Regions from separate parts of the Homo sapiens genome. Here all the other regions are linked to region 4. Evidence: fine-mapped expression QTL. A gene starts in region 4. Each other region holds a variant in brackets. All regions are shown on one strand. Distances are between the middles of the regions. Region 1 holds the start of NFATC4 (nuclear factor of activated T cells 4). Region 2 holds the start of PSME1 (proteasome activator subunit 1). Region 3 has its middle 9.5 kb from the start of CMA1. Region 4 holds the start of GMPR2 (guanosine monophosphate reductase 2).

Region 1 (8,082 bases), 140 kb before region 4:
AAGGCATGAGGCCGCAGGTTCCTTTCATCTGCAGTGCCGATGAACATCTGTAGGGTCAGTGGCTTCTCACTGTAGCCTAGGAGCTGGCAGAGGGAGAGAGCGGCCACCTCATTGAAATCCCCACCGTCTCATCCTTTATTCATCCCTAGATTTTCAGTCTACCATGGGATGGGAATGGTGAAAGATAAAGGATATCCTGCAAGGGAATCCCTTGGGGAACTGGGCACCCGTTGTGGAGAAAACATGGCCTGGAGTTCACAGTGTTTTTCTTGGAATAAAGCCCAAAGTGGGCTGGGCAAAGGCAGAAGAGCCTCCAAAGAGACTGGCCCAACTCAATACAGAGAAAACTTAACTCCCAGTGACTTTTGTCCTCAGCCTAAACCCTCCCCCATATCTGGCGGGCCACCATTTTCCAGAGTAGACATGAGGCTGGTGTCCCATGGGATGAGCTGAGTGGGGGTGGAAGGACAGGAGTAGAAAGTATATCCGGGTCCTTGCACCCCTCCTCCCCCAACTCCAGCCCCTCCCCCAGGCTGCCTGCAGGGTCAGAGCTGAGAGGGAGTGTGGGAAAGGGCAGTGCCATGTGTCTGCATAGCTGGAACCTATCTGGGAGAGGAGAGAGGATATCAGGCCTGCTGTCTGTCCTTTACCTTGACTACGGGGTGACCGCCAGGGGCAGCTTTGACAGCTCCACGGCTGCCTTCTGTCTCATAGTGGGCCCGGTGGTGGGCTCTAGGCTGTACCTCGATCCTCAGCTCCAGCTGCTCATATTGGCTGGGCAGAGGCCAGTCCAGTGGGGGTAGGGCAGAGGTCCTGGGTGGGAGAGAAGAGCATTGATCATGTGCAGCCTCAGACCCCAGTCAGGCCCGTACTGGATCTGTGAGGGAGGAGGGGGTATGGGTCTGAGAGAAAGGAAAGCACAGAAGAAATAAAGAAGTACATTAACACTTGTGAAAAGAAGGGAAAAAAGAATTTTTTTTAAACTAAAAAAAGGACAAAGAAATGAAGAAATCCAAAAGTCCAGAAGCAAGGGGAAGTAGGGGACAGAGCCCCTTGAGGTGTGAAAGATGACAACAAGCCTAAAACTCCCTTCTTCCCAGCTCTGAGCGCAGGGGTTGGGGTGGAAAGGCTTCACTTGGATACAGAGGATTCTCAAGCCCATCTCAATCCCTAGACCTGGATGGAAAGAAAAAAGAAGTGCCGCTTCAGACCAGAAAAGGCCTCAGATATGAACCCTTTGTTTTACAAATTAAAAAATTGAGGTGCGTTGGCTCACACCTATAATCCCAGCACTTTGGGAGGCCAAGGCAGGGGTAGGGGATGGTGTGAGGATGGCTTGAGCCCAGGAGTTTGAGACCAGCCTGGGCAACATGGTGAAACCCCGTCTCTACAAAAAATACAAAAAGCAGCTGGGCGAGTTGGTGCTCCTGTAGTCCCAGCTACTCCTGCTGAGGCAGGAGGATTGCTTGAGCCCAGGAGGTTGAGGCTGAGTGAGATCACACCACTGCACTCCAGTCTTGGTGACAGAGCAAGACACTGTCTCAAAGAAAAAAAAAAGAGAGAGAGAGAAAGAAACTGAAGCCAGCAGCTACTGACAGACCTAGGACTGAGCACATTCTGCTCTCAAGCCAGCTCCCTTTCCACTAGTTGGGGCTTGATAGGTGGAGTTCCAGGGAGCTAAGGGTTTCAGATGGGACAACTTATCCTGTATTGTGCTCCCTGATACCCTAGGACAGTGGATCTCAACTGGTAATTGCCCCCCAAGTAATTGCCCAGATATTTGGCAATGTCTGAAGACATTTTTGGTTTTCCCAACTAGGGGAGTGGGTGCTACTAGCATCTAACGGGTAGAGGCCAGGGAAGCTGCTAAACCATCCTACAATGTCCAGTACACCCCCACATAACAAAGAATTATCCTGCTCAAAATAGTAGTGCTGAATTAACAGTGCTGAGGTTGAGAAACTTTGCCCTATGGGAAACCCAGGGGTACCAGTGTTAACGTTTCTTTCCCCTAGAAACTTTTCTGGACAGAGCCAGCTCAGTCTAACATCTCAAGATTTAAGATTATTGAAATGGGCAAGATTCTCTGAGGGTGGAAGGAATAGAACTGCAAGTTTTAATATGAATTATTTGACTTGCAAATATATGCTATTTTATTCAAGTTAGCAGCTATACTTTTAAGCTAGTAGGTCAGGCTCTAGAAATTAAGGAATGCAGAAGGGGAATTTCCTGCAACAGAGTGGAAATCTGCTTAGGTCTGGCACCTATTGAAAGGGCCAGAGTGGAAGGCTGAAATCCAGCCCAAGTTCCACACTCAGCCACATGCCAGTGCAGAGCGGGGGCTTGGGAGCACTCTATAGGCTACAGGAACACCTCCTTAACCTAGTTGATCCTCCTACAATAGCTAGGGGTGGGAGGGTGGAGGGGCTTTTTCTAATTGTCCCACAGGGAACTGTTGCCCTCTTGTAAATCATCCAGAGGTGCACTTTTTTTTCTAGTTCTCTTTAAAACCAGGTAGTTGGCAGCTGCTGAGCTGGTTGCAGATACTCTTTTGAAATTCAGAGGGCATGAAACTAGTGTCTTCAAATCCATCCCTTGACCCTCCTGCTCCCCTACTGGAATGGCTAGAGAGAGCGGTAGTGCCAGGCGCAACCCTCACCTGAAGATAGGGCTGTGTCCCCCAATCCGGGCCTTGGACCAAGCGAGTGGGGAGGGCACTGCCAGGTAGTCCATGCCAGCCACCTCCTTCCGGGAACCTCCTGGAGGAGCCACAGACTCCTCTGCTCCCAAGGGCAGCTTCCCATTGCATGAGGCAGGCTCCTCAGACCGAGGCAGAGCCACTGCCTGCTCGCTGGAAGTCCGCCGTGTCTTCTGAGGGATGCTCTCAGCTGGTGGGGCCCCCACATAGTCAAAGGGACCAGGGGAGCCCGGGTCCCGGGCCAGAGGCAATGGGGGTGGTGGAGGTGGCTCAGACCCCTCTTCCCCCAGGCTGCCACGGCGGGACAGAGCTGGGGAGGCTGAAGATGGGGTTCCCGAGCTGGAATAGCGCCGCTTGCCACATGGAGAGGCAGGCCGCGGGGAGGCTGGGGTGGGCCCAGGAGCACTGAGGAGTAGCCAGCTATCCTCTGGCCCTCGGCCTCCGGGGCTTGGACCATACAGGCTCCAGGGATCTTCGGGGGTCCATGGCCGAGGGGAGGCCCGGGGCGAGGGCAGCGGGGAGCCCAGGCCAAAGCGGGAGGCCGCCTCATTTAGCTCAGACTCCACCTCGTCGCAGGCTGCATACAGGGCTGCCTCGTCAGAGGCATCGGAGAAGAAGCTCCACGAGGACAGGCTGCTGCTGCCAGGGCTTGGGCTGAAGAAGGCCCCCCCACCCTGGCCCCCTGCTTCTCTGTAGCCCCCAAAGCCTTCTGGTGGGGGGTAATCTCTAGGAGAGCCGTCCCCCCAGGCATCAGGGTTGTCCTCCAGCGCTGCTGGCGGCTCCGGCGTGGGAGAGATGGAGGTGATGCGGATGCTGGGACACTCGAGAACACGGCCACCCCCAGCACCCCCAGCACCCCCTCCTGGTCCTCCCAGCCTCACCGACCTGGCGGGCTGGCTCTCCCAGGTGCCAGGTGAGGGGGCTGGTCGCGGCGGTGGCGAATGCATGCCAGGCCGAGGGGGTGGAGGTCGGGGAATACCGATAGGTGCAGCGCCATAGGGAGGGGGCTCTCCCAAGGCCAGACGGCAGCATGGCGGGGCATCCTCTGAGTCCAGTTCTGTCAAAATGGGAAGAGGAGCAGAGGGAGAGGGGGAAAGAGAGAAGCAGGTGAGATGGCTATGTTCCTTGAGTGGCCAGGCCGCAAGTCCTTCTATGCTCCCTGCCCCTCAGCAAAGAGACCTTCTGAGCCACAAGACAAAAGCAGAGTTGGACCTGGGAAGATGGAGGAGATTGAAGCAGGCATGCCAGGCCTTTGCCCACTGGCC[C/T]CTGGATCCTAGGACCGAGGGTACCCGATCCAGTGGGTCTTAAGGTGAGAGAGGTGGGTCCAGAGGGGCTGGAGCTGGGGCTGGGCCTGGAGGCGTGTTTCTTGAGGCACTGGGCTGGACTGGGGGCGACTCACACATGAACCCAATTAGCAGCGGTTCCCAAACCCCCAAACGGCGCTGGCAGGAGCCCCAGTTGCCATCGCAACCGTGGCCAGAGGGGAGGGGGGCGTCAGGGCTGTGGTGACGAGGGGAGGTGGCTCCTCCCTCTCTCCTCGCCATCTAGGGGCGGAGGTGCAGCCGAGGGGGTGATGCGTGCTGGGCCCAGCCGGGGGAAGGGGGGCAGCGGGCAGCGCGGATTCGTGCGAGCGGCGGCCGCCGCCCCCGGCTCGGTCCCCGCCATCTGCCTCTCATTGCGGCCAGACGGGGGAGGGGGAGGGGCGCCCCAGCGAGGCCTGACAGCGCCCCCAGCCCCGGGCGTCCAGTCGGCCGGGCCAGAGCTCGGTCCGCCAGGGGCCAGCTCCAGCGCCAAACCTCCCCTTCCCCTGGCGGCGCCTGGTGCTGTTGGGGCCGTAGTTCCCGCCCGCCCCCCAGTTCAGTGACAGGCGGCCCAGCCGGGAGGCGGCGCACAGCCAACAGCACCCCCACCCCCACCCCAGTCACGACCTAAAAAGGAGAAAGTGGTGCCCGGGCCCCCAGCCTCACTTCCGCAGGCCAACGAGTCCCCCCGACTCCCTTCGACCTCTGACTCCCTCACCCCCCACCCTAGGCTCGCTGCCTTAAATTCCCCAGACTCAGGATCCCCGGCCCTCCTCTCACTGACCCCAAGACCCCTTCCCAGCCCAGCACTAACCTTCCCCCAATCCCCCCGCGCCCAGCGGGGGGGCCTCCTTTTCCTCCCCGAACACCAGCTTAAATTCCAGCTCCTCATCCTCGCAGCTGGCCGCCCCCATGGATCCGGCAGGAGCCCCCAGGTCCCGGCCTGGGTGGGAGGGGGGAGTTCAGGAGGCTGCTGTATCTTCACCCGGGTGGCTCCCTCCCTCCCTTTCTCTGAGAAGCCCCCTCCTCCGTCGCTGCCGCCTCCCTCCAGAAGCCCCCTCGTTATTATAGAAACTTTTCCAAACTTTTTTCCCCCAAACTTCTTCAAAGCGGTCCCCCCCCCAGCCTGTCCCTGATTGGCTGCCGGGGATGCTCCAGCCCCTCCTCCAGGGATGAGATGGGAAAACCACGCGCCCCTCGTCCTCCCCCACCCTCCCTCCCTCTGTCCTCTCTTCAGTCCCTCCCCCTCAAAAAAAAAAAAACTGAATTGGAAAACGGTCCTTCAAGAGTGATACTAATGTTGCCTATTGGTCCGCCGTTGTGACAATCATTTCCCGCAGAGAGCCCAGCCCCCACCTCCCCTAGTCTCAGTTCAAGGTTCTGGGTCCGAGAGCCTTAAAGGGGCCACATCCTGGGCCCCCAGGGTAGAGAGCCCACGGAAGACCCTTTTTTAAATTCTGAAGACTGTGTAGATAGCACCTAGCAAGGCAGAACCACTTCTCCTCCCCTTTCCCTCCAAGCCTGAGGCCAGGAGGGTCCTGGGGGCAGAGTGGCACCGAGTTGCTCGGAAGAGGAAAAGGCTATTCTTCCGCCTCCCTTGCCTGGGGCTACTCTGCCCGGGCCTTCTGGAAGTCTTTGCGCTGCCGAATCAGCGCCTCCATCAGCCATTCCTCCAGGACCCCCAAAGATGAAGAACGCTTAGCCAGCCTGGATGCCTCTGGGAGCAGTCCGAGCCAAAGAGGCTTTGAGAACTGTCCCTAGGCCCACAGCCCTTGATGGGCGTAGATCCAGGCCAGGCTTTGCCGCTGCCCTTGTCCCAGCCACCCAGAGGGGCCGTGAATTAGCCTCCACGGGAAGTTGGCAGCCTCCTCCCTAGAACTGTAGTCTGGAATGAATCTCTGACCCGATAGCATCCCACTCCGGCTCTTCTAAAAATCCTTGCCAGGTTTACTAGGGGCCTGAAACCTCCGGACCCTGTGGGTTCCCCTCCTCTTCCCCCTCCTTGGCCCCCCCGCCCCCAACAGGCTGGACACCTGTCACCTGGGCTGGAGGAGGAAGGAAGACCTGGACTGGAGTTTCCGGGAAAGTCAGGCTTGGAGAGGCCTGGGTTGTGTGAGAGGGAGTTAGATGGGAGATTCGTGACTCGGTGGGAGATACTGGCGAGGCTGGCGGGTAGGAGAGATGGGAGGGTGGTTATCATTTTCTCCCACACACACACAGTTTCAACCTCTCTTAGAGGCCGCGTCTCCAGTCTCTAAATCCCTCCGGTTCAGGGCCGCACCCCCAACGCCGCCCCATCCCAGCAACTAAACGGTTAAGCGACGGCCCCAGGTCAGACGTTTACAAACACTCAGAAGCCGGGCGGGGACCGCGCCCGTTACTCTAATGAGAAACAGGCTCTACGGGACTGGGGAAAGAAGGGAGGGCTGGCCCGACGGGCCGGAGCTCCGCAGCGGCCGAGGCGGCTTCCCTCCCTCCCCTCGGTCCTCCCTCGGGCCCGCCCAGGGGACCACCCCCCCAGTCCCCGGGGACCCCAGTGACGTGCGGAGCTGCCCCGGCTCCGAGCCCAGGGCCGCAACACAGGAGGGGCGGGGAGAAGAGCCCAGGCCGGCGGGGAGAGAAGAATGTTCCGAGGCCGAGCGGGGAAGCGGCCTGGTTTGATTTTCTTCTTTCTTTTTTTTTTTTTTCTTTTTTTTTTCTTTTTTTTCCTTTGGTTGGTCTCCTCAGGTTACATTTCCCTTCCAGCTTCATCTCGGAAATAAAGGAAGGAGAAACCCACGGGGAGGGAGGACGAGGAACACCTCGACCCATCAACCAGCCTGTACCTAAGAGGGCAAGGGAGGTGGGAAGCGGAGGCGAGAAAAGCAGGGATAGAGACCCCGAGGCCCAGCCCCTGTTCCCCCAGACTCTGCCCCTCCCCGGCCCCACTCCCCGCAGGCACAGCACATGCAGACGCACACATTCTTTTCAAATGTCATATTTCCTTTGATCCTGGGCAGCGTTTCTCCATGTGTCTGGCTCAGCTCCTGCCCAGCCAACCGCCTTCCCCTCTCACCCCTGTTTGTTTTCCTGGAGAACCCTCCTCCTCCTAGCATCTGGAAGGCCCTGAGGGCTGGCGTCGGCCCTCATTCCCCTGATGACTCTGGCCTCTCCTCCCATGACTCAATTTCCCCTTCATGGGTGTTGGGGGGTAGGGAAGGGAGGAGCAGAGGGGAGAGTGGTTGAGATTGTTCAGAGTGCCAAGCTTCTCTGAGGCGGGGGGCGGGGGGGCATCCCCTTGACTCTGAAAACCCTCCAATCTGTCTCGGCTGCGGCAGAGAGATGGAACTTATGACTTCTGAAATGCTCGGCCTGGCGTTGGAGCCTGGGCAACAGCGGGTAGTTGCGGATTTAAGTTGCCCTACACTTCTGCCCCCTGGCGACCAGAAAGACCCAGCCCCCCCGTCCTTGGTTCGCGGTTTCTCTAGCCGCCTGGCCTCGGTCTCAGCTCCGCTGCCTCCTAGCGCACATACCGGAGCACAACCCGGCTTTCTTACCTTGGTTGGTGGCTTCTGCTCTGCACTTTAACAAGCATCATTCAACTTCCTTGGAGGTGGATGTTATTTATTTCTTTTTTTAATTACACAAGATGCAGTCTTCTCTTTTCCCCAGAGGTCTAAATAAAGCTAATTAATATGCATTCTTCTTGTAAACAATTCAAGCTATACAAAAATATGTAGTAAACCTTGATGGTCCACCATTTTGTATGCCTTTATTAACATGTACGCACACACACATGCTCTTTTTATGCGCGTGACAAGCATTTTTCTTGCTTTTTTTTTTCCTCACTTAACAAATGGTTGGAAGATCTTCTCCCATAGTACCATCTGAAAATGATGATGAAAATGCCCACCTTTTCAGTAGATAAAGTGACTTTTACAAATCAGGTTAGCAATAGAGTTGATCTGGAACCCAGGCCTCCTGGGTCCTTGTCAAGTTTGCTAATTCATTCCATCACATTTTACACAGGAATCTGTCCCAGGCTTGGCTCCTCCAGTAAGTAGAGCCTGAGACAAGAACAGGATGTAGGTAGTTTATAGTGAA
Region 2 (8,093 bases), 95 kb after region 4:
GGCTACCTGCGAGTCGAGTTAGCGTTGTCGCCGAACCGAAGTGAGAGGGCACGGGGAAGGGTCAAAGAGCGTGCCGAAGCGCTGGAGGGAGCTTCACGGACGCGAGCTAGGCACCGGCTCGCCTAATCCGGTACTAATCCGGCTTGCTGCTTCCCGTCCAGGCCTCGCTCGCCATGGGGGAGGTGGAGATCTCGGCCCTGGCCTACGTGAAGATGTGCCTGCATGCTGCCCGGTACCCACACGCCGCAGTCAACGGGCTGTTTTTGGCGCCAGCGCCGCGGTCTGGAGAATGCCTGTGCCTCACCGACTGTGTGCCCCTCTTCCACAGCCACCTGGCCCTGTCCGTCATGTTGGAGGTCGCCCTCAACCAGGTGCCTCCGTTGGATGCCCATCCCCCACCGCGAACCCACCCAACACCCCAGCCCAAGTTCATCCCCGGTCCCTTGGCAGCAGTGCGCATCCACAAAGCCAGCGGCACAATTTAATTACTGATGGCCCCTTTCCTACGACAGGTGGATGTGTGGGGAGCACAGGCCGGTCTGGTGGTGGCTGGTTACTACCATGCCAATGCAGCTGTGAACGATCAGAGGTGAGTGGCGTAGCCAGAGGAAGAAGGAAAGGATTATGGCGGGTTGGGGATTGGAGGAATAGAGGGCGAGGATGCGTGGGGCGGTGGGCGGGGCGGGGGCGCACAAGATGAACCAAGGTCGTTCCTTTTATCTTTCCTTCATCAAACGCTTAGGAGCAGGGGCTTTACACCAGGCACTATGCTGGGTACTGGAGTGAGGGAATATAAAGATGAATAGGACAGAGCCCTGCCCTGGAGTGCCGTTGGGGCGGGGAGGACAACTGTGTATCAACAGACTGATTTTTTTTTTTTTTTTGAGACGGAGTCTCCCTCTGTCTCCCAGGCTGGAGTGCAGTGGCGCAATCTCGGCTCACTGGAACTTCCACCTCCTAGATTCAAGCGATTCTCCTGCCTCAGCCTCCCGAGTAGCTGGGATCACAGATGAGCGCCACCATGCCCGGCTAATTTTTTTTATTTTTTTAATTTATTATTATTTTTTATTTTTAGTAGAGATGGGGTTTCGCCATGTTGGCCAGGCTGGTCTAGAACTTGACCTCAGGTGATCCACGCGCCTCGGACTCCCAAAGTGCTGGGATTACAGGCGTGAGCCACCACTCTCGGCCAACAGACTGATCTTGCTTTAACTGAGGTGTCCCCCAGGGGCTGAAAGAACAGAGAAATCCCAACCAGCAACTTCAAAAATAAGGCAGTTTCCTTATATATATACATATAGGAAAAGACATATATATATATATATATATATTAATCATATACATGGAGCAATTAGAGGTACTGTTTTGTAATTTGCGTTTCTCCCTCACTTAATAAATACTTGACATCATCCCATTTCCACACCAAGATCTACCGTAACAGCTATATAGTCTGAATATGAATGTACTCTAATTTATTTAATACTTTAAACATTGAGGTTGTTTCCAGTGTTTTATTACAGACACTGTCCTATGATTACCATAAATTCTTTATAAGTAGAATTTCTGGGTCAGCATATGTATAGTATGTATACAGTTTCAATTTGGATGGTTATGCCAAATTACCTTCCAAAAAGACCACCTTTGGTTTCCACTCTCACCAGCAATATCTGAGCACCTGTCTCCCACAGCACTCAAGCATCAAGCAGTCGTGCATCAAGCATCCAGCAGGCCCGATCCCCGCAGGCCACCTACAGGGAAAGGCCACAGCTGCGCCCACACCTATGAGACCTGGGAGGCCCAGCTCAAATGGATGGGTTTTGCCCACAGTTGGCTCCTCACTCCTCTGATCTTCCCTCTACACAGCCCTGGGCCCCTGGCCTTGAAAATTGCTGGGCGAATTGCAGAATTCTTCCCTGATGCAGTACTTATTATGGTGAGGCTTGGGTTTCTGGGTGGGGAGGTGAAAAGCAAGTAGGGTGGGGGGACCCTTGAAACTCTCACTTGCCCATCTTTGTCCACTCAGTTGGATAATCAGAAACTGGTGCCTCAGCCTCGTGTGCCCCCGGTCATCGTCCTGGAGAACCAAGGTCTCCGCTGGGTCCCTAAGGATAAGAACTTGTGAGTACCCCACTCCCTCTACCTCTTCTTAGAAGCCCAAGGCTCCTGGGTCTCCTCTGTCCTTGGCCCTGCCCCAAGGGTCTTTCTCTAGACCCAATCTCTGTTAAGTCTGTGTCTGGACCCACTACTTGCTGTTTGACCTCCATGGGGGTTACTATTTCAGAGTGATGTGGAGGGACTGGGAAGAGTCACGGCAGATGGTGGGAGCTCTACTGGAAGATCGGGCCCACCAGCACCTTGTGGACTTTGACTGCCACCTTGATGACATCCGGCAGGACTGGACCAACCAGCGGCTCAACACTCAAATCACCCAGTGGGTTGGTCCCACTAATGGAAATGGAAATGCCTGAGCCAGGGCCAGCGGGGCCCGGTTCCAATAAAGAGACTTGGGCTGATGGGCAGTGGTATAACTATATTTATTGTGCCTGAGAGGCAAGGTGAGGGAAAAATCTCAACAGAAGCAAGTTTGGGGAAAATCTGGAGTCCCCAGTAAAAAGCAGGAAGGTCTCTGCTGTACTCATCACAGAATGGGAGAGAGGGCTCTCAATAGATCATTCCCTTTGTTTCTCCCCTGGGCTTCTTGAGCTTCTCGAAGTTCTTCAGGATGATGTCATATAACACAGCCTACAGGGCCAGGGAGTAGAGGTCAGTCAGAGGCCTCCAGTGGCTCTGTGCCCCATTTCTAGCCTTGTGGAGAAGCTGAGCTTTGTCACCCTTAACCCCTAGCCTGCAGGGTCAGGGAGTGGGTGGCCTGGGAAAGCTGCCTCTGCCCACCCCTGCCCTGCCCTTGCCTCCTCACATAAGCATTGCGGATCTCCATGACCATCAGCCGGATGTCCCGGTACTCTGCCTCATCCAGCTCGTGCACCAGCTGCCGATAATCACCCTGTGGGAAGCTCGGGTCAGGCCTGACCTTACATGTGTCCTTCCCCCATGCACCCTGACCTGGGCCTCACCTACCACATGGGGCTGCTTGGCTGCTTTAGTCACTGCATCACCACGCTCAGAGAAATACCTGTGGAAGGAGAAGTGTGTATGGAGTAGAAGAAGGAGGTCTCCCAAAACAAAAACAGTGTGCACATGGGTGGTCACTCACTTAGAGATTTGAGTGTGGAAGCCTTCTAGCTTGGTGTGGAGGCTGGTCATCAGCTCAAACACCTTCTCCTAGGGAAAAAAAGCAAGGGGGAAAGTGGAAGGAAGCATGGACTAGAAAAGAGCAGGGAAGTGGGGCAGCGCTCTCACCTGGACAGCCACTCCAAAATTGTTACCATCCTCAATCCGAGGTATCTGCAGCTGCAACCAGGTGGTGACCTGGGAAGAGGGAATGGCATAATGCCACATCAGCCCTCTACCCAATTCCCAGTTTCATATTCTCCCTTGCTTCCCTCCCCACACTGGGTGGAGGCGTGCCGGGTCTATCCTGAGCCCCAGGGCCTGGACTTCTGGTTTCACTTGCTGTGCCCTCTCTTGCTAAAACCTGGCAAGTGCCAGGCCCTAAATGGCAGGGACCAAGAGGACAATGGTTTGACTTGAAGCCTGAGAGTTTAAGGGGGAGGGCTTACCAGGTTGAGCTGCTCAATGACATCCTTGATCTCAGGCTTCAAGCGCTGCAGAAGGACCACGATCTTTTCATTGCAGTTCACTGGGCCACAGGGAGGACCTAGAGAGTGAGCAATGGGTCAGTCACATGATTGAGCCTGTGTGAGGGGCGAAGGGGAGACTGGAAAGAAATCCTTAGGAGGAGCTCCTGTGAGTGGGACTCAAGTCTCTTCCCACCATTGTGGTTTCAAGTACCTTTGTCTTCATCCTCCCCCTTCTTCTTTTCATCCTTGTCTTCCTTCTGCAGAAAGAGAGGAGCTCATGAGAGTCAGGACTAAGGTTGATTACCCCCATAGTTGGATCCCTTCTCCCAGGTCTTCCCAGCTTGCCTCCTGCTGTTTCTTCCGCTCCTCTTTCTCTTTCTCCTTGACTGGATCAGGCACTGGGATGTCCAATGGGGCCTTCAGATTGCTCAAGTTGGCTTCATTGAGAGCTGGCTCCTGGTGTAGGGTGGGAGGAGGGCTGGAGGTGAGGGAGTTCCTCTCACCTCACTCTCACAGCCTCCAGACTCTTCTCT[T/C]GGCCTTTACTCCCTAGCTCCCTGCCCAGCCGCGGTACCTTTAAAAATGCATCCAGCTCAGAAATCTTCTTGGGGAAATAGCTCCCGAGCAGGTTCTCTGTCTGTGTGTGAGGTGGGGGTGGAGGAGGATGGGAGTCAGCATCAAATGCCCGTCCTAGGTAGTGAGGCAGGGTTGAGCAGTAGGAGTTGGGCAGGGGTGGGGCCACGCTGATGGGGCATGTCTTACCTTGGTACAGAGGTCTTCACGAAACACATCCACCTGTGGGGCACACGCATCCCTTCAGAAACTTGGCTTTAAGGCCAGTTCATTTGAGGACAGTTCCCTTAGGGTTATGTAGGGCCTGACCTGGGGAAGGGTGGAGGGGATCCCTCTAAGGCCAGACCTGAAGAAAGCGAGATGGATGCCTGTAGGGTGGGTTGGGGTGGTGGAGAAGGTGGATCTCTGCAGACCTGGATCTACGGAAAGTGGAGTGGGTATCCCTGGGGCTGGATATGGGGGATGAGAACATTCCTGGCGGTGAAGGGCCAGTGTTCACGTGAGAACAGATCTCTGGGGTCGCCTGGCAGGTGTGAGGAGGGGTGCTGAGAGTCCTCTGCAAGTAGGACAGGGATGGGGTGGGCCCCGGGACCCTCCCTGAGGGAAAGGCCAGAAGGTAGCTGGGGCAGTCCCGCACCCAGTCTGTGTGTGGCCCCGGCCCCAGGCCAGCGGAGTTCCCCTCCACGCCAGCTCTCCGCTTCACCTCACCCCGCAGAACCACGGCCGCCTCGCCTCTCCCCGCAGGCAGCAGTCGCCGCCCTCCCCGGGGCGCAGGTGCTCCGGGCGCGCCAGCTCGGCCGACTGCCCCCGACTCGCGTGGGAGCCTGGGGGGCGGGTCGGGGATGCCCCCGGCCGCTCCAGCCACGCCTCCCCAGTGGGCCCTTTCTAGACCCCGCGGCGCTCACCTTGGCTTGGGCCTCGGGCTGGACCCTGAGCATGGCCATGACCGGGACGGGGGGCCTAGCGCCGCACAAGGAGTGGAGTGGGCACCGCGAAGGGAAAGCGAAAGCGGTAGGGCGCTCGCACCCAGCTCCGCCTTCCTGGGTAGTGGGGCGGGGAGGGCTGGAGGAGGCGGGGTCGGATGGAGGAGGCGGGGTCAGCCCTGCCATGGAAGGGGCGGTGCCGCAGAGGAGGGCGGCGGGTGAGGCTCCGCCTAGCGCGCACAGGCGCTCTTCACCCACCCTCCCCGCGCCGCCTCGCGAGGGCCAGCTTCCAGGCTCCCCACCTCCGCTGGCCCGGTCCCCGCCTCCCGCCTCCCGCCACCTGCCGCCCGCCGCCTGAGGACGGCGGGTCCGGGTCCTCCCATCGCCAAGCCCAAGCCAGTCTCTCCGCGTCCCAACCTCCACCTCCCGCCTCCCAACTGGCTCCCCACCTGCTCTCTTCTTCCCCTGCTCCGCCTGGGACAGATAAGCTTTACTTAGGGCTCTTCCGTCTTTCCCTAGAGATGGAATAAGACCTGGCCTGTCTTTCCTAGCCTTGCTAGCGTGGGCCTCTGGCTCTGCCGACATCCTGCGCACCTGTAGCAACACCGGCACCAGAGCTGGCAGCATCCCTATCCAAGCCCGGACCAACTCTCTCCTGGACCACGGCTGCAGATGCCATTCTATAACCCACTCTCACGGAGCAGCGGGTTCATGCCTCTCTCTGGCTTAAAACCCTTTCTCAGCTGCCTGTTGACCTTTGAATGAAATCCAAAAGGCTGTCGCACCTGTCTCCCCTTTAAGTCCACTTTCTACTGCTTGCCCCTTCATTCATTACACTTGCAAATATTTGGGCTATTTGTTTCTCAGATGTGTCATGTTCATTTCTGCCTCAGGGCCTTTGCCCTTGCTAATAATCCCTTTGCCTAAAACACCCTTACCCTGGGTGTTGTCATTCGGTTCTCAGTTTAGATGTCACCTCTTCAGAGAGAACTATTTTCATCATCCTTTATAAGGAACCTCCCTCCAAATCTATTACAAATCATCCTGTTTTAGTACATTCATAGCATTTATCTCTCTGATATTAGCCAGGTGTTTTTTTTTTTTTTTCCAGGATAATTTACTGATTTAAACCAGGTTTTGGCAAACGTGTGTGTGTGTGTGTGTGTGTGTGTGTGTGTTGGGGGACGGAGTCTCGCTCTGTCGCCCAGGGTGGAGTGCAGTGGCACCATCTAGGCTCACTGCAACCTCCACCTCCAGGGTTCAAGCGATTCTCCTGCTTCAGCCTACGGAGTAGCTAGGACTACAGGCGCGTCCCACCACGCCCGGCTAATTTTTTGTATTTTTAGTAGAGACGGGGTTTCACCATGTTAGCCAGGATGGACTCGATCTCCTGACCTCGTGATCCGCCCGCCTCGGCCTCCCAAAGTGCTGGGATTGCAGGCATGAGCCACCGCGTCTGGCCAACTTTTTCTATAAAGGGCCAGAGAGTAAATATTTTAGGCTTTATAGGCCTTACAGTGTCTGTCTACTCAACTCTGCCATTGTAGTAGGAAAGCTGCCATATGTAAATGAATTAGTTTGGTGAGATAACATTTTATAGACACTGGAATTTGAATTTCATGTAACTTTCTCCTGTAATAAAATATTCTTATTCTTTTGCTTTTTCAACCATTAAAAAATGTAAAAATGGCCGGGCACAGTGACTCACGCCTCTAATCCCAGCACTTTGGGAGGCCAAGGCAGGCAGATCACTTGAGGTCAGAAGTTCGAGACCAGCCTGGCCAACATGGTGAAACCCTGTGCCTACTAAAAATACAAACACTAGACGGGTGTGGTGGTGGGGGCCTGTAATCCCAGCTACTCGGGAGGCTGAGACAGGAGATCGCTTGAACCTGAGAGGTGGAGGTTGCAGTGAGCCAGAATTGCACTCCAGCCTGGGCAACAGAGTGAGACTCTGTCTCCAAAAAAATAATAAAAATAAAATAAAAATAAAAATGTAAAAAATGTTTTACCTTTTAAAAAAAATTTTTATACAGACAGGGTCTCACCATCTTGCCCAGGCTGGTCTCAAACTCCTGGGCTCAAGTGATCCTCTTGCCTCAGCCTCCCAAAGTGCTGGGATTACACTGCCATCACTGCCAGGTCTCTGTCTTTAAAAAAAAATTATATATATATTATATATGCAAATATTATATATAAAATATATAATAATATATATAATATATAAATATATATATTATACATATATAATTATTAGCTCGCAGGTCATACAAAACTGGCCACAGGAGGGCCAAAGTTTGCTAATTCCTGGTTTAGAGGATAGATGATATACCCATATTATCTAGCTTTGTAATCATGGCTCCTCTGTTTATTAGTTGTGAACAAGTTACTTAACCTCTGTGTCTCAGTGTTTGCAACTGTACAATGGGAACACTACTATCTCAATTTTTTTTTTTTTTTGCCAATCAAGATCAGTACAACCTACCTCATACTTTTATTGTTGTGAGGACCAAATGTGTTAACTTTTTTTTTTTTGAGATGGAATTTCACTCTTGTTGCCCAGGATGGAGTGCAGTGGTGCAACCTCAGCTCGTTGCAACCTCCGCCTCCCGGGTTCAAGGGATTCTCCTGACTCAGCCTCCCAAGTAGCTGGGATTACAGGCGCCCGCCACCACACCCAAGTAATTTTTTTTTTTTTTTTTTGTATTTTTAGTGGAGATGGAGTTTCACCATGTTGGCCAGGCTGGTTTTGAACTCCTGACCTCAAGTGATCTGCCCACCTCGGCCTCCCAAAGTGCTAGGATTATAGGCGTGAGCCACCGCGCCCGGCCATATGCGTTAACTTTTATAAAGAACTTACAGACACTTAGAACAGTGTCTGGCACAGAGTAAACGCAGT
Region 3 (8,100 bases), 290 kb before region 4:
GAGTTAACACTACTGTACTGTACATTTAAACACTGTCAAGATTGTAAATTTTATGGGTTTTTTTACCATTATTTTGTGTTTTTTTAACCACAATTTTTAAAAACTGACCTATAGGACAAACTCTACACTTTCATGGCACATAAGCCCTTCCTGACCCAGCTCTTCTCCAGCCTCATCTTCCACCATTCCTGCCCTCTTTCACTCAACTTTATGCTAGATACTTTATGTAGTTCCGCAAACACCCATCCCTTCTCTTGCCCTCTTTGCATAGGTCACTACTTCTGCACAGAAAGCCCTGTCTCAATTTGTCCAATGATAAAATCTAACCTATCCTTGAGATCTCACCTCAAATGAAGCTGTCACTGCCTTTCCAGGACAGACGAGAGCTTCTCTTACCACCACACAGCACATTATACACCTCCCACTGAAGCACGTGGCTATTCGTGCTGTAGTTATGAGCTTGCAGACTGTGATCTCCTTTGTCTCACCAGGGTCTGGTATCTAGGAAGTGCTCATCCATCTACTTTCTCACTGATAAAGTGAGTGAGTGAGTGAGTGGTATTTTTTTTTATTACATAATGGTAAAGGGATCAATTCAACAAGAAGAGTTAACTATCCTAAATATATATGGACCCAATACAGGAGCACCCAGATTCATAAAGCAAGTCCTGAGTGACCTACAAAGAGACTAAGACTCCCACACAATAATAAGGGAAACTTTAACACCCCACTGTCAACATTAGACAGATCAACGAGACAGAAAGTTAACAAGGATATCCAGGAATTGAACTCAGCTCTGCACCAAGCGGACCTAATAGACATCTACAGAACTCTCCACCCCAAATCAACAGAATATACATTTTCTCAGCACCACACCACACCTATTCCAAAATTGACCACATAGTTGGAAGTAAAGCTCTCCTCAGCAAATGTAAAAGAACAGAAATTATAACAAACTGTCTCTCAGACCACAGTGCAATCAAACTAGAACTCAGGATTAAGAAACTCACTCAAAACCGCTCAACTACATGGAAACTGAACAACCTGCTCCTGAATGACTACTGGGTACATAACGCAATGCAGGCAGAAATAAAGATGTTCTTTGAAACCAACGAGAACAAAGACACAACATACCAGAATCTCTGGGACACATTCAAAGCAGTGTGTAGAGGGAAATTTATAGCACTAAAAGCCCACAAGAGAAAGCAGGAAAGATCCAAAATTGACACCCTAACATCACAATTAAAAGAACTAGAAAAGCAAGAGCAAACACATTCAAAAGCTAGCAGAAGGCAAGAAATAACTAAGATCAGAGCAGAACTGAAGGAAATAGAGACACAAAAAACCCTTCAAAAAATTAATGAATCCAGGAGCTGGTTTTTTGAAAGGATCAACAAAATTGATAGACTGCTAGCAAGACTAATAAAGAAGAAAAGAGAGAAGAATCAAATAGATGCAATAAAAAATGATAAAGGGGATATCACCACTGATCCCACAGAAATACAAACTACCATCAGAGAATACTACAAACACCTCTACGCAAATAAACTAGAAAATCTAGAAGAAACGGATAAATTCCTGGACTCATACACCCTCCCAAGACTAAACCAGGAAGAAGTTGAATCTCTGAATAGATCAATAACAGGCTCTGAAATTGTGGCAATAATCAATAGCTTACAAACCAAAAAGAGTCTAGGACCAGATGGATTCACAGCCAAATTCTACCAGAGGTACAAGGAGAAGCTGGTACCATTCCTTCTGAAACCATTCCAATCAATAGAAAAAGAGGGAATCCTCCCTAATTCATTTTATGAGGCCAGCATCATCCTGATACCAAAGCCAGGCAGAGACACAACCAAAAAAGAGAATTTTAGATCAATATCCTTGATGAACATTGATGCAAAAATCCTCAATAAAATACTGGCAAACCGAATCCAGCAGCACATCAAAAAGCTCATCCACCATGATCAAGTGGGCTTCATCCCTGGGATGCAAGGCTGGTTCAATATACGCAAATCAATAAATGTAATCCAGCATATAAACAGAACCAAAGACAAAAACCACATGATTATCTCAATAGATGCAGAAAAGGCCTTTGAAAAAATTCAACAACGCTTCATGCTAAAAACTCTCAATAAATTAGGTATTGATGAGATGTATCTCAAAATAATAAGAGCTATCTATGACAAACCCACAGCCAACATCATACTGAATGGGCAAAAACTGGAAGCATTCCCTTTGAAAACTGGCACAAGACAGGGATGCCCTCTCTCACCATTCCTATTCAACATAGTGTTGGAAGTTCTGGCCAGGGCAATTAGGCAGGAGAAGGAAATAAAGGGTATTCAATTAGGAAAAGAGGAAGTCAAATTGTCCCTGTTTGCAGATGACATGATTATATATCCAGAAAACCCCATTGTCTCAGCCCAAAATCTCCTTAAGCTGGTAAGCAACTTCAGCAGTCTCAGGATACAAAATCAATGTGAGTGGTATTTTATTAGAAACCCAGAACTTGGAAGGAATAGAGAATTTTGATAGCCAGGCTGACACAAATATTGTCATTGAAAGAACTCATAAGACAGCAGGAGAAAAAGAATAGAAGGTTGAGGCTGGGTGAGATAGTGCCAGTCATCTATCAGGTGGTTCTCAAGGAACCCAGGCCATACAGAAAAGGTTATAAAAATTAGGGGAAGCTGAGCAACTGCAAGAATACACAGAAATAGTGGCACGTGAGGTCCCACAGCACAAAATGAGGATGCAACTAACTGCCCCAGCGTAACACAAAAAGGATGTTATCATTTTCACAAGGCTGGGAAACCCCAGGGCACAGAACCACTGCTTCTCACAGTAGGGGCTGGGAACAGAGTGGTGCCTCCCAGAATCCCTCTGATAAGGATTGAGGCAGGTGGAAGACTGTTCCAAGTGCTGAGAGGTCCTCTTTTTATTTATTTGGCCTTTTAGAGTCCTGGAATAACTTAAAAGAAGACAATTCTGGTTCACAAACTCTTGGAAGAGGTTAGTGATCTTGGGGGCTAATAATGTCAATATTAATAACTAACTTTGAGTACTTACTATGCCTGATGCTTTCCCCAAAAAATATCTAATCCTCACTATCATTAAGCCCATTTTACAGATGTGGAAGTGGGGAGCTAAGAGAGATAAAGAAATGCACCCAAAGTCACAAAGCTGATAAAGGGTGCTACCAGGATTCCAATGCAGTCTGATTCCAGAGCTCTTAACTACGTATTTAATACTTACTTCACCTCGTTCCCAAATGCATGGTGTGAATAAGGCTTTTGTAGGAAAAAGATGTACCCTTTCCTAAGTCTCAACAATGTAATCTTTGCTGTTAATCAGGGACATTTGTCCTGAGAAATTCACCGCTCCTTTCTCTTTACGACATTCCCCTTACAGGGACTGAAAAATCAGTCTTTCACAAGAGATCTTGATACTTAGAGCACTTCCCTATGGCAGCATCAATAAACTAGCCAAATGTTCAAAACTGTGTCAGTTGTGCATAACTTCTAGGGGAAGGAGAAAGTTTTTCCTGGATGTATGTGTTAAGAGATAAGGAAATACAGGAAAAAAGAGCAAATGAAAGGCAGAATCATTATCTGGGACAACATTGATTTCAGATCCTGGAGGGCTAAATCCAGGACTACTCAGAAGTCCTGAGTAGTCCCTCAATTAAGGGAGTACTCACTCTAACTGAAAACACATAAGGGGGGGCGCATAAAAGAATCTTTGAGGCTTGGCCCTCTGACTCCTGCCACACTGCCTCAGGAGTTGGCTGCCTCCATTCCTGGCAACAACCACAAATCGAATGAGCTTCGTGTAAGCATGTGAAAAGGACAGTTTGTGACATAACAGACTTCTTCTAAATCCCACCAGATATGAGATCACCGTTGATAGATTTGATTCTAAGATGCAGGGAACTTTCCATTGCTGGCCTTGCCAATGCTGAGAGCTGATAGAGGGACAGGCAGCATCACAAGGTTTAACGAAAGAACTATCCCAGATTTAAGGGTCTCTACCCAAACCCATGGGAAAGGGATGATTTAAGGACTGCTTAGAATGAACACTGAATAAACGGGGAGACTGGTGAAAGGAGGTAAGACAGAGCAGGAAACAACATAAACCCAACTGTGCTCGGATCTGCAATGAATCTGCAATGGAAGCAAAAAAGCAAAATAAGGGCCGGGTGCAGTGGCTCACTCCTGTAATCCCACCACTTTGGGAAGCCGAGGTGGGCAGATCACTTGAGGTCAGGAGTTCAAGACCAGCCTGACCAACATGGCAAATCCCAGTCTCTACTAAAAGTTCAAAAAATTAGCCAGGCGTGGTGGTGCGCACCTATAGTCCCAGCTACTTGAGGCCTCACCTGTGAGGCCTGAGACTATAAAAATCCTAGAAGAAAATCTAGAAAAAACTCTTTTGGACATTGGCCTAGATGAAGAATTTATGAATAAGACCGCAAAAGCAAATGCAACAAAAACAAAATTAGAAAAATGGGACTTAATTAAACTAAAGAGCTTCAGCA[C/T]AACAAAACAATCAACCTACAGAATGAGAGAACCTACAGAATGAGACAGACCTACAGTACAGACAACATATAGAATGAGAGAAAATACTTGCAAACTATGCATTCAATAAAGGACTAATATATAAGAAACCCAAACAAATCAACAAGAAAGAAAAACAAATAACCTCATTTAAAAAGTGGGCAAAAACCATGCATGGTGGCTCACGCCTGTAATCCCAGTACTTTAGGAGGCTGAGGTGGATGGATCACTTGAGGTCAGGAGTTTGAGACAGCCTGGTCAACATGGTGAAACCCTGTTTCTACAAAAAATACAAAAAATAGCTGGGAGTGATGGTGGGTGCCTGTAATCCCAGCCACTTGGGAGGCCGAGGCAGGAGAATCGCTTGAACCTGGGAGGCAGAGGCTGCAGTGAGCCAAGATAGCGCCACTGCACTCCAGCCTGGGCGAAAGAGTGAGACTTGCCTCAAAAAAAAAAAAAAAGAGCGAAGGACATTCACGGACATTTCTGAAAAGAAGACAAACAGCCAACAAGCATATGAAAAAATGCTCATTACTAATCATGAAAGAAATGCAAATCAAACCAAAATGAGTCACCATCTCACACTAGTCAGAAAGGCTATTAATAAAAAGTCAAAAAATAAATAACAAATAATGGCAAGGATGCAGAGAAAAGGGAATGCTTATTCACTGTTGGTGGGAGTGTAAATTTCTTATGAAAAACAGTATGGAGATTCTGAAAGAACAAAAAATAGAACTAGCATTCAACCCAGCAATCTCACTACTAGGTATCTACCCAAAGGAAAACATATCGTTATATCTCAAAGATTCCTGCACTTGTATGGTTATCATAACACTATTCCCAATAGCAAAGTCATAGAATCAACCTAAGTGTCCATCAATGGAGGACTGGATAAAGAAAATATCTAATCACACACACACACACACACACACACACACACACACACACACACATATACACACCATGGAATACTATGCAGCCATAAAAAAAGAATGAAATCATGTCCATTGCAGCAACATGGATGGGCCTGGAAGCCATTATCCTGAGTGAAGTAACTCAGAAACAGAAAATCAAATTCTGCATGTTCTCTTTTATAAGTGGGAGCTAAACAATGGGTACACATGGACATGGAGATGAAAATAATAGATACCAGGAACTCCAAAGCAGAGGGATTGAAAAATTACGTATTGAGTACAATATTTCACTAGAAGCCCAAATCTCACCATTACACAATATATCCATGTAACAAACCTGCACATGTACCCACTGAATCTAAAATGAAATAAAAATAATGTTGAAAATCATAATAATATGGATTGTGCCTTATAAAATTGAGGGAAATGGTTTGTTGTTGGTTTTGCTCTGCTTCTACAGTCCAGGACAGCAGGATGATGTAAGGAAAGATCATGCAATTGGATATAAGTTCGATACCTAGTTATGTTTATAGCTTACAAAGTTTTTTCGAGTGATTCAAATTATCTGAGACTCAGTTTCTTCATCTGTAAAATAAACACAATAATATTTCTCAGGGTTGATTTGAGGGTGAATGAGATAAAGCACACACCTGAACTCTACCATGTGTCATAGGTTAAAAGATGCACAATATTTCTCATTTTAACCTCTTCACAACAGAAATGAACCTGATAATTAATGACACATTATTGTTTAATTTAGAACAATTTTATTCTTCCTCAGTGGCACATAAAGTAATGAGAGTCCAGGATAATTTCAAATAATGACAGCTGCAGGTATCAATTTATTCTCAAGCCAGGTGTGACTCTCAATGCACAAGTGGGTTACCCCAACCCCTCCAGAGAACACAAATATTCTCCTTTATACATTCCATTTTTTTCTCCATTCATTGGACTAACTCTTCCTCCCACAACCCTTATTACTCAAATTAGTGGAATAGAAAAAGTATGAGTTTCAGAACCAGACAAATTAAATTTTGGCTGTGCTGCTATGTGACATTCTGAACTTCCACTGAGTGCTTCATAATTGTGTATAATAATACTAACCCCAAAAGACTGTTAATAAAGATTAAATGAGAAGATACATGTAAAGTCCTAGCAGTGCCAAACACATTGTAAATTCACCCTTTATTTTTGGTGAAAGAATCCAGACATAATAAGCCAAATATTATATAATTCCATTTATGTCCAGAATAGGCAAAATACATAGAGACAAAGTAGATTATTTGTTGCCAGGGGTTGTGGGGAGGTGGACAATGGAAGTGACTACTCATGAATACAGGTTTCTTTATGGGGTGATGAAAATGTCCTAGATTAAATAGTGTTGATGGTTGCACAACCTTGTAAGTTTGCTAAAGGCACTGAATTGTATATTTTCAAAGGGTAATTTTATGGTATGTGAATTATGTTTCAATAAAAATATAGAAAGAAAGAAAAATTTTGAAAAAATAAATTCTCCCTTTTTCCTTCCTCCTCTCACCACCACATTCCTTTCTTCTGATTATTAGAATTGAAAGAAGGGCTGATACCTAGATCAGGGTCTGGCAAACTATGGTCTGCAGGCCAAATCAGCCTCCCACTTCCCTTTGTAAATGAAGTTTTACTGCAACATGTTCACATCCAGGGTTTACAAATTGTCTATGGTTGCTTTTGTGTTACACAGCAGAGTTGAATAGTTGCCACAGAGACCATTTGGCTCTCAAAGTTGAAAGTACTTCCTACCTGGTGATTGACAGAAAAGTTCCCTAATCCCTGCTTAGAATGGGTGCTACAGCACCTAAAACTCCCCCCTCCATGCATGCTACTACCTACTTCTAGAGAGCTTTTCTGAGTGACAAGTGTGCATCCCTCTTCCTAGGACTCTTGAGAACTCACCACAACTTCTACACTCCCAGAGCAGAGAGTAGAGTCATGAGAATTTCTGATGAGGAAGATAACCATGCCAGCATGAAAGACAGAAATGAGATCAGGTGGTTTCTGTGGCTTCAAGCCATCCCCTTTCTTCTACTTCTAGGGCTATAAAAGCGGGGCCCAGTGAAGGGGTGACAGAACTAGCCATGGTCAGTATGGGCAATGTCGCAGGGAAAATGCAGGCCCTGATCATTTTGCTGGTCTTCCTCTTGCCTCCTGAAGCCACATCTGGTGAGTCTAGGGTGTAACTTCCTGTCCTGTAAGTCCTCAGCCCCTATTCCAAAATCATTAACCTGGGTCAGAGAAGAGCCTAAAATAATGCTGCAGGATATCTTTGCATATGTTCCAAAGGGAGAGCTATACCTAGAAGAGTCATATACTTTCCACAGTTGATGACAGTGTCCCAGGGACAAGAAGAGTAGGGTGGAGAAAGAATCAGAAACTGGCTTTGGAAGTTTCCCTTAACCTGCTTTGCTCAAAATGCCCCCAATTCTTATCCATGGCCCTTCTCTCATATTGAAGAGGGCAGGATAAGGACATGATGAAATGTCTAAAGGAAATGACAAATCAAGCTGGTTAGAAAAAATTTTTTTCACTCTTATGTATGTATGTTATGATTCTCAATTTTAAAAAAATTAACATGGACCATAACCAGAGAG
Region 4 (8,080 bases):
ATGCTGCGAAGAAAATGAAGGCCACTCTTCTAAGGTTGTAAAAAGATAAATCATTATTCATGTGACCCCTTTTTATGTGACTAGTATGTGTCCATTTCAGTGGGCAGATGTCTATGTACCACAGGTATGTACAGTGCACAGATGTTCCATCATGGTTTGGTGAGTGACATCAGGGACATCAGATTTACAAAGACTATGAACCAAGGGTCAGAGATACTACACTGACCAAATAGACATTTTCAGCTTAGAACTATGGATAATCATCCAGTATCATGATTAAATGAACTAGGAATATCATAATGCAGCAGAGGAGAAATGGACTGATGTAGCAAAACGGAGTGGCAGGAAAGTGGAAAGATAAAAAGGTACCGACTGTAATAGAAACATACCATGATGGTGTGCTGGGGGAAGCGCTTCCGTACATCTTTTACAAATTCAACAAAGTGTTCAGAGTAGCCATTTGCCACATCCAGGCATATATACTTCACCTGGGGAATAGCTTCCAGGATCTGTTCCAGCTGCTCAAAGTCAGAAGAGCCTGTGCCTGAGCTGGCAGCCAGATGCTGTGGGAGAAACAGAGTCATTGGCATATCAGAGATGATCTGGTGGGCAGCCAGTGGGTCATTGGTGAGTGCTGGTCCCCAGAAAGCCAAAATATAATTGCTGGAAAACTGGGATAAGGAAGGGAGCAGGGTATGCCCAGTGTTACCTCAAGACAGTCAGGATTCTGGCCAGCAAACTCTTGCCACTGAACGAGGCTATAGTGCTTATGGACAGCAGTGAAGAGAGAGAACTGGGGAGAAGACAAAGAAGCATCAAAAGGGAGAAAACTTTATTAAGGTCTCTTTTCTAGAAACAGACCTATTCTATCTGAGGGAGGACATGATTGAAGTTGGGGAGGAAACAAGTCAAAGAACTCAGGTTGAGCTGGGATTTGAGTTCAACCTTTCTTCTCTCTACAAATACTAGTAGGGCTTTTTACCATAAGCTAGTACTTGTCAGATTTCCCACCAAAGTACTGAGTGATCTGGGTTGGATTTCATCTGCCAGCACATTCACTGCTTCTGACTTAAAAGGTGACAAGCTGCTGGTGCAGTGGGACAGGCAGCAGACATGAAAGAACCATGAAGAAGCTGGATGGAGCCTGTGTTTCTCTGCACTGACTCAGCCCCTCCTCCTAAGGTAACCTAGTACTAAACTATTTTTGGTTATGTTCTCGTTCATTTACCAGCAGTAATTCAGTAGATCTGGATGCTCACCAAAGGTAATGCCTTAAGGTTGATAAGAGCTGATAAGGGGCTACCCTACCCTGTCTCCATCTCTAGTGGAAAAAAGGACAAATTTCCTAGTTGGGGACATGGATCAAGCTAAAAAATCTGTTTCATTCAGTCCATTTTAATAAAGTTCAAGGACATAATGACTCATCAAACTCATATTCTCTAGCTCAACAGATTGCAAACAATATCCCAATACTTTGAGGAAGGCATTCAAAGGCCATTGTGTATGCTGGTGTTTGTGCCTTACATGTCTACATGCAAACAGACAAGAGACAGCAGTTGGCTGAAACAGCACAAATCTTGCAACTAACAAGAAACCCAAGGAAGTCATGTATTAGCTAGCAACAAGTGCTCTACATACGTACTCAGAGATCAACAATATCTAGCTAAAGCTGGTATTGAATTCTGCTTTCTCAACAACTCTATCATCAACATACTGATAAGCAAAGAAAAGTCACCATAGGATAGGAAGTCAGCAGATGTTGGAGATATACTGGCAGAGTGTGGCATGATGAGCACATCAGATTACATACCAAACTTAGAAAAAGATGTTTGCTTGCATCCAACCTTTTTATTACAGTAAGACTTGGCTCTTATCTCTAAAACCTGATTTCTTTACCTCTCGTCAGCAATACTGAAAGCCAGGCTCCACATAAAGCATCAAGACAGTCCCCAAAAAGGTTCATGTATTACAGCACGCCTGTTAACTCTGCAGTCAGAGTCACCAATTCTGAACTCTACTGGTCAGGGCAGATGGACAGTGGGCAACAGAAAGATTCCTAAGCAGTTACTGAATGGCAATAAAAATAAAGTAAAAATAAAACTGCATAACTATCAACCTTAAAGAAATGACAAGACATTCCACAAAGACACAGCAATCAAAAATAGAAAAAGGATATGAAGTCCTTAAGACTAATGGAGCCACAAACAATAGCAGAATTCATCAACCAGGGCTACATGGATCAACCAGCAGAGTGCATATGTTCTCAAAGTGCCCAGATAACTCTCTACCTTCTCAGCAACAAGTATAGAGGCAGGTAATAGTACTGACAGGAGCAGCATCTTCCATTTCAAAGTGAACAACTTGTATATAAGAAAAACACATCCCATTTGGGGCACATCCCAGAAACTCCCAGGAACCTAGGACTTAAAGAAGAGGAAGATTAAAAAAAGAATGGCAGAAGTATTCTTTTATTAATGAATTGTTCTTATTAAAGAAAATTAATAAGCTGCTTCTCCTAGGATCTTCTAGTTAGGATTTTTGAATGCTTAAACTGTAGTTTCTGGACTAAAACAGTGAATGCTTAATGTGGACAATCGCATAACTGAAGGGATGCATGTGACTGTGAGGGGGTGACCTGGGTGGTGGGAAAAGTTGGCAAGGTGTACAAACTGCTAAACAGGACAAAAGGGAAAATTCTGTTCATATATCAGAAATATCGGAGCAGAACTTAGCTTTGAATCTCACTAATTCAGATGGCCTTTTGAACTTATCAGATAAAGGGCTTCAGTAGTGGAAAAAACCGTAAATCAGAGCATCCTGACTGCTAACTGCCAGAGAACTGACTGGGCATGGGGGTGGGGATGCAAACACCTCTGCAGTCAGCTGGGCTAACTGGACACCAATAGGGATGGGGCATGAGGAAAGCCCTACCTTACAGAGAACCTTGGCCATCTCAAAGGTGCCCACAGTATCCATATTGGCAGCAATGATGGGAACCCCAGAGTATGTCTGCTTTGAGTTCCGAAATGAAAAGGATCTTGTGAGATCCACCTGCAGATATGAACAGGAAATTGACCATTTCATTAATCCAAAAAACGTACCATATTAGGACAAGGACAGGCATCTTTCTTGGTTGTGGCCCACCGGGAGCGTGGGGTCAAGAAACAGCAAGTAGAGAAGCTTGCTCACCTCACTTCGAGACTTAAGGGTACTGCGTTTGGGCCTCAAAAGGACATCCTTGAAGTCCAGTTTCACATCGTTGTCAATATGAGGCATGGCGCTTAGCCTCGGGGTAGCGATGAATCTGAGGGCTGGAAGGCAGGAAGTCATAAGGACCAATCTTCCCCTGGGCTTTAACGCCCTGTTACGGCTGGTGGCCTCTCTTCGCTTAAGTTGTGGAAGGTCGGGCAAAGGCCGAAGTGTGGTCCCTGAAGCCTGTCACCTCGACCCATCCCGTGGCTGCGATTACCCTAGGGCTCCATCCCAGGTACTGTTTGTTGGGGAGGAGAGCTGGGAAAGGGTTGTGAGAGACCCTGACGGTGCATTCCTTACCCCGCTACACTTCCTTCTTCTACCCCTGCAAAGAGCAATGGGGCAAGAGGCTGATTTAGGGGAACGAAGGAATGTTGGCGACGGGGGGCGGGGAGGGTTCATAACTAGTTTCCGGAATAGAGGTACTCACTTCCTGTTGCCTTGGTCCAGGCGGCAGTTGACCAAAGACCACCTTGCTTAGCAACTAACCTCGTGCAATCCCGCTAAGCCTTCTGGGCCACGCCAACAGGTTCCTCTAGTTGCCGGCGAGAACTACTAGCCGACGAATTCCAGCTTCGGCGGCGGCAGGGCGAGGCCTTCTGGATAACAGAGTTCACGCACTGAGGTTGCTGTTGGATCCGAGGGGGTTAGACTACAACTCCCAGGGGGAAACGGGCGGGACCGCCTCCTGGCACGATGGGAGATGTAGTTCGTTCTGCCCCCACTTTTCGCTAGCCCGGGCTCGCCAGGGACTCTCAGAATCGCAGAGTCGTCATCTCTGCTGTTGCTAAACTGGATGCCTCATTCCAATTTACGACGTCACTGAACCGAAACGCGGGAGCAACCCTGAGCCTTTCCGGAACCCAGTGGGGGGGGGGGGGGGGGTGGAGCCAGACAGTGACCCGGAAGTAGAAGTGGCCCTTGCAGGCAAGAGTGCTGGAGGGCGGCAGCGGCGACCGGAGCGGTAGGAGCAGCAATTTATCCGTGTGCAGCCCCAAACTGGAAAGAAGATGCTAATTAAAGTGAAGGTGGGAGCACCTCCAGCCTTGCCAAGACGCAGTAGTACTGGGCTGGCAGCAGTGCCTTACGGGAGACGTGGGGAAGGAAAACCACGCCTTTCCCTAGCCTGGAGGACGCTGACTGCCTCAGGGCTCCGCGCGAGGGGTGGTGGGAAATAGGGGGACCCAGAAGGGCTTTGAGAGCGGGGCCCAGGTCCCACCTGACGACCCTGGGGTATTTTGCCATGCCTGCTTTTTTGCCAGGACTGTGCTATCACCCAGAATGGGGTCGCTTTTGTCGGGTCTCACTGTATTCGAACCCCCGCAGTCATAGAGAAGGCCTAGCAGCGGCTTGACTCCCCCGTCTCTCAGATTCTTGGAGTAAGCGCTGCTCTCCATTCTTCATTCCCAGGGTACCTGCTTCTCCCAGTCCCTAACGTAGGTCGCCTCCGAGCACAGCCCTAAAATCGGGGCCTCCCAAGGGCTAGACTATGAGCCTTTACTGGTGGTTGCCAAGGTGTGGTATCTCACCCGTCCTACAGGAACCAAAGCGGGGAGTGTGTTCAGTCAGTACCTGCCTTTCTGAGCCTGGCATCCTGGACCAGCCTCACTTCCTTGGCTGAGGCAGGTTAGTTACCGCTGCCCTAGTTCTTGCTACTAGCCATGGTTTCCTTCATCTGCATCTCTCAACTCCCGTGGTGGTTCTTCACCAATTTCCAGCCCTCGTTAGTCCTATCTGCTGTTTCCTCTTTTGTGCCTTCAGACAGACAGAGACCCCCCCCCCCACGCCCCCCTCAAAAAAACAAAACTGCTGACAAGTGAAGTCTAATGCTAGTTTGGCCTTTTTGTAGCTAAGTAAATCTATCGTTATTTCATCAGCTTCTTAGCATATTTACCGTACATAATAGTCATTCTTAACCTTCTCTTCCCCAGTCCTTCCAAACTACTTCTTAGCTAAGATTTGAGGTCTAGTATTAAAATAGTATGTTAAAGATGATTTTTTTTAACGTTGAGTAGCGGCCTATATAAGAGTCGTAACATCAATTTAATAGGTGAATGGGTCACTGGCGCCATTAAAAAGAGAAAATAGGCTGGGCGCGGTGGCTCACGCCTGTAATCCCAGCACTTTGGAAGGCCGAGGCAGGCCGATCGCTTGAGCCCAGGAGTTGGAGACCATCCTGGGCAACATGGCGAAACCCTGCCTGTACAATAAATTCAAAAAATTAGCCAAGGGTCTGGGCGCATGCCTGTAGGCCCAGCTATTCGGGAGGCCGAGATGGGAGGATTGATTGATCCTGGGATGTCGAAGCCGCGGTGAGCAGTGATGGCACCACTGCACTCCAGACCCTGCCTGAAAAAAAAGGCCGGGCCCAGTGGCTCACGCCTGTAATCCCAGCACTTTGGGAGGCCGAGGTGGGTGGATCACCTAAGGTGAGGAGTTCAAGACCAGCCTGGCCAACATGGTGAAACCCCGCCTCTACTAACAATACAAAAACTAGCCGGGCGTGGTGGTGGGCGCCTATAATCCCAGCTACTCGGAGGCTAAGGCAGGAGAATCCCTTGAACCTGGGAGGCGGAGATTGCAGTGAGCTGAGATGGCGCCATTGCACTCCAGCCTGGGCGACAAGAGTGAAACTCCATCTCCCCCTGCAAAAAAAAAAAAGAAAGAGAGAGGGGGAGAAAATAGGAAATAATATAGTGCTAGGTAAGGATATTGTTTTATGATTTTTTTTTTTTTTTTTTTTGAGACAGAGTCTCGCTCTGTCGCCCAGGCTGGAGTGCAGTGGCGCCATCTCGGCTCACTGCAAGCTTCGCCTCCCGGGTTCATGCCATTCTCCTGCCTCAGCCTCCCGAGTAGCTGGGACTACAGGCGCCTGCCACCACGCCCAGCTAATTTTTTTGTATTTTTAGTAGAGACAGGGTTTCACCATGTTAGCCAGGATGGTCTCGATCTCCTGACCTCGTGATCCGCCCGCCTCTGCCTCCCAAAGTGCTGGGATTACAGGTGTGAGCCACCCTCCCCCGTGCCTGGCCTTTTTTTTTTTTTTTTTTTTTTTTTTTGAGACAGAGTCTCACTCTGTTGCCAGGCCTGAAATTTTTTATTTTATTTTATATGTATATTACACAGGGGGTGTTACTAGTTCATACTAATTTTTAGAATGGATCACTGTCAAAATCTTGAGAAACACTAACTGTTGAATATTTTTATTTGAGACGGAGTCTCCCTCTGTCACCAGGCTGGAGTGCAGTGGCGCAATGTCGGCTCACTGCAACCTCCGCCTCCCGGGTTCAAGCGATTCTCCTGCCTCAGCTTCCTGACTAGCTGGGACTACAGGGTGTGCCACCACGCCCAGCTAATTTTTGTATTTTTAGTAGAAACGGGGTTTCACCAGGTTGGCCAGGATGGTATCGATCTCTTGACCTAGTGATCCGCTCACCTCCGCCTAAAGTGTTGAGATTACAGTCATGAGCCACCGCGCCCGGCCTGTTGAATACTTCTGTTGGCTTTTCAATGCATATGGGTTCTCATGTCCACTAGGTCCAAAGAAGTTAAGTTACTAATGCTAAGTGTTTTGTACACTTTTTGAAAATTTCACTCCACATTAAGAAATTTTATGTCACAACCCATAAGGCACAAAAACTTTGCTATTTGTGATATGCTCTCAGACTTTCAATTCTAAGTTGATTTCATAACCCACTGATGGGTTGAGACCTGCCCACTGATGGGTTGAGACCTGCAGTTTAAAAAGTACTGTTTGAAAGGCCAGGCGTGGTGGCTCACGCCTGTAATCCCAGCACTTTGGGAGGCCAAGGCGGGCGGATCACGAGGTCAGGAGTTCAAGACCAGCCTGGCCAACATGGTGAAACCCCGTCTCTACTAAAAATACAAAAATTAGCCGAGTGTGGTGGCACACACCTGTAGTCCCAGCCACTTGACAGGGTGAGGCAGGAGAATTGCTTGAACCTGGGAGGCAGAGGTTGCAGTGAGCCAAGATCGTGCCATTGCACTCCAGCCTGGGCAACAGAGTGAGACTGTCTCAAAAAATAAATAAATAAAATAACTGTTTGAACAAAAAAATCAATGCTGTGTGTGGAAACTTGAAAATACAGTGTCCTATCACCTGTGGTCTTGCTAAAATGCTGATTATGATTCTGTGGGTCTAAGGTGGGGCACAGGTTTCTGCATTTCTCACAAACTCCCAGGTGATATTGAATGTCTGAGAGCTACACTTTGAATAGCAAGATTCTAGATTTTTTCTGTTTCTTTGAATCCATATTTATGTGGTACTTCTCTAAAATTGCCAGTCTTCTTTCCTGCAACACCCTTCTGCCTTCAAACAGGCCTCTGTGCCCCATCTCTCTCTATCTCCCCCTCTCGCCCCATCCCCTCTTGTTTGTTGCATTTCTTAATTAAATACATAGGAAAGTAGTTACACATGAGATAGCTGTTAATCTGATCTGAAGAAAATATTAATTTAAAAAAGAAAAAAAAGAGCTGTTAATTACCATATAAGTGACATTTTTTATTACAGTTCCTTTTTTTTTTTTTTTTTTTTTTTGAGACAGGTTCTCACTCTGTCGCCCAGGCTTAGGGTGCAGTGGTGCCATCACAGCTTACTGCAGCCTCGACCTCTCAGGCCCAAGCAATTCTCCCATCTGAGCCTCCTGAGTAGCTGGGACTACAGGCGTGTGCTACCACCATACCCAGCCAATTGTTTTATTTTTTTGTAGAGATGCGGTCTCATCGTGTTGCCCACGCTAGTCTAAAACTTCTGGGGTCAAGTGATCTTCCCACCTCATCTTCCTAAAGTGCTGGGATTACAGCCGTG

Evidence for each region. PIP is the estimated chance that this variant, and not a neighbour inherited with it, causes the effect.
Region 1: its variant is fine-mapped to the expression of GMPR2 in whole blood (INTERVAL, PIP above 0.99).
Region 2: its variant is fine-mapped to the expression of GMPR2 in whole blood (INTERVAL, PIP above 0.99).
Region 3: its variant is fine-mapped to the expression of GMPR2 in whole blood (TOPMed, PIP 0.95).

Annotation. Positions count from the first base shown.
Region 1 is chr14:24,365,172-24,373,253 of GRCh38, reverse strand. NFATC4 (nuclear factor of activated T cells 4) reads right to left here and starts at 5,070. Exons shown (of 10, transcript NM_004554.5): 1 at 4,814-5,070; 2 at 2,660-3,755; 3 at 651-813; 4 at 1-83. The coding sequence starts at 4,913. LOC124903291 (a long non-coding RNA gene) reads left to right here and starts at 3,869. Exons shown (of 2, transcript XR_007064085.1): 1 at 3,869-4,007; 2 at 6,727-7,738. RefSeq lists an enhancer at 2,426-3,269 and silencers at 4,232-4,611, 6,330-6,639. The variant C/T (reference allele first, on the strand shown) is at 3,964.
Region 2 is chr14:24,133,385-24,141,477 of GRCh38, reverse strand. PSME1 (proteasome activator subunit 1) reads right to left here and starts at 5,284. Exons shown (of 11, transcript NM_006263.4): 1 at 5,177-5,284; 2 at 4,461-4,493; 3 at 4,273-4,335; 4 at 4,047-4,157; 5 at 3,913-3,958; 6 at 3,681-3,778; 7 at 3,361-3,429; 8 at 3,215-3,282; 9 at 3,079-3,133; 10 at 2,918-3,004; 11 at 2,516-2,742. The coding sequence starts at 5,215. The coding sequence ends at 2,662. It overlaps EMC9 (ER membrane protein complex subunit 9), which reads left to right. Exons shown (of 6, transcript NM_016049.4): 1 at 1-40; 2 at 162-371; 3 at 513-589; 4 at 1,864-1,933; 5 at 2,024-2,118; 6 at 2,282-2,513. The coding sequence starts at 174. The coding sequence ends at 2,468. RefSeq lists silencers at 1-53, 4,951-5,240, 5,291-5,710. The variant T/C (reference allele first, on the strand shown) is at 4,235.
Region 3 is chr14:24,513,715-24,521,814 of GRCh38, reverse strand. No RefSeq gene overlaps it. Among named protein-coding and RNA genes, the nearest start is that of CMA1, 9.5 kb to the right of the region's middle. The variant C/T (reference allele first, on the strand shown) is at 4,541.
Region 4 is chr14:24,228,450-24,236,529 of GRCh38, reverse strand. It overlaps GMPR2 (guanosine monophosphate reductase 2), which reads right to left and starts at 3,601. Exons shown (of 10, transcript NM_001002002.3): 1 at 3,553-3,601; 2 at 3,190-3,311; 3 at 2,932-3,051; 4 at 710-793; 5 at 390-563. The coding sequence starts at 3,276. NEDD8-MDP1 (NEDD8-MDP1 readthrough) reads left to right here and starts at 4,163. Exons shown (of 7, transcript NM_001199823.3): 1 at 4,163-4,280. The coding sequence starts at 4,263. It overlaps NEDD8 (NEDD8 ubiquitin like modifier), which reads left to right and starts at 4,163. Exons shown (of 4, transcript NM_006156.3): 1 at 4,163-4,280. The coding sequence starts at 4,263. RefSeq lists enhancers at 3,973-4,267, 3,434-4,299.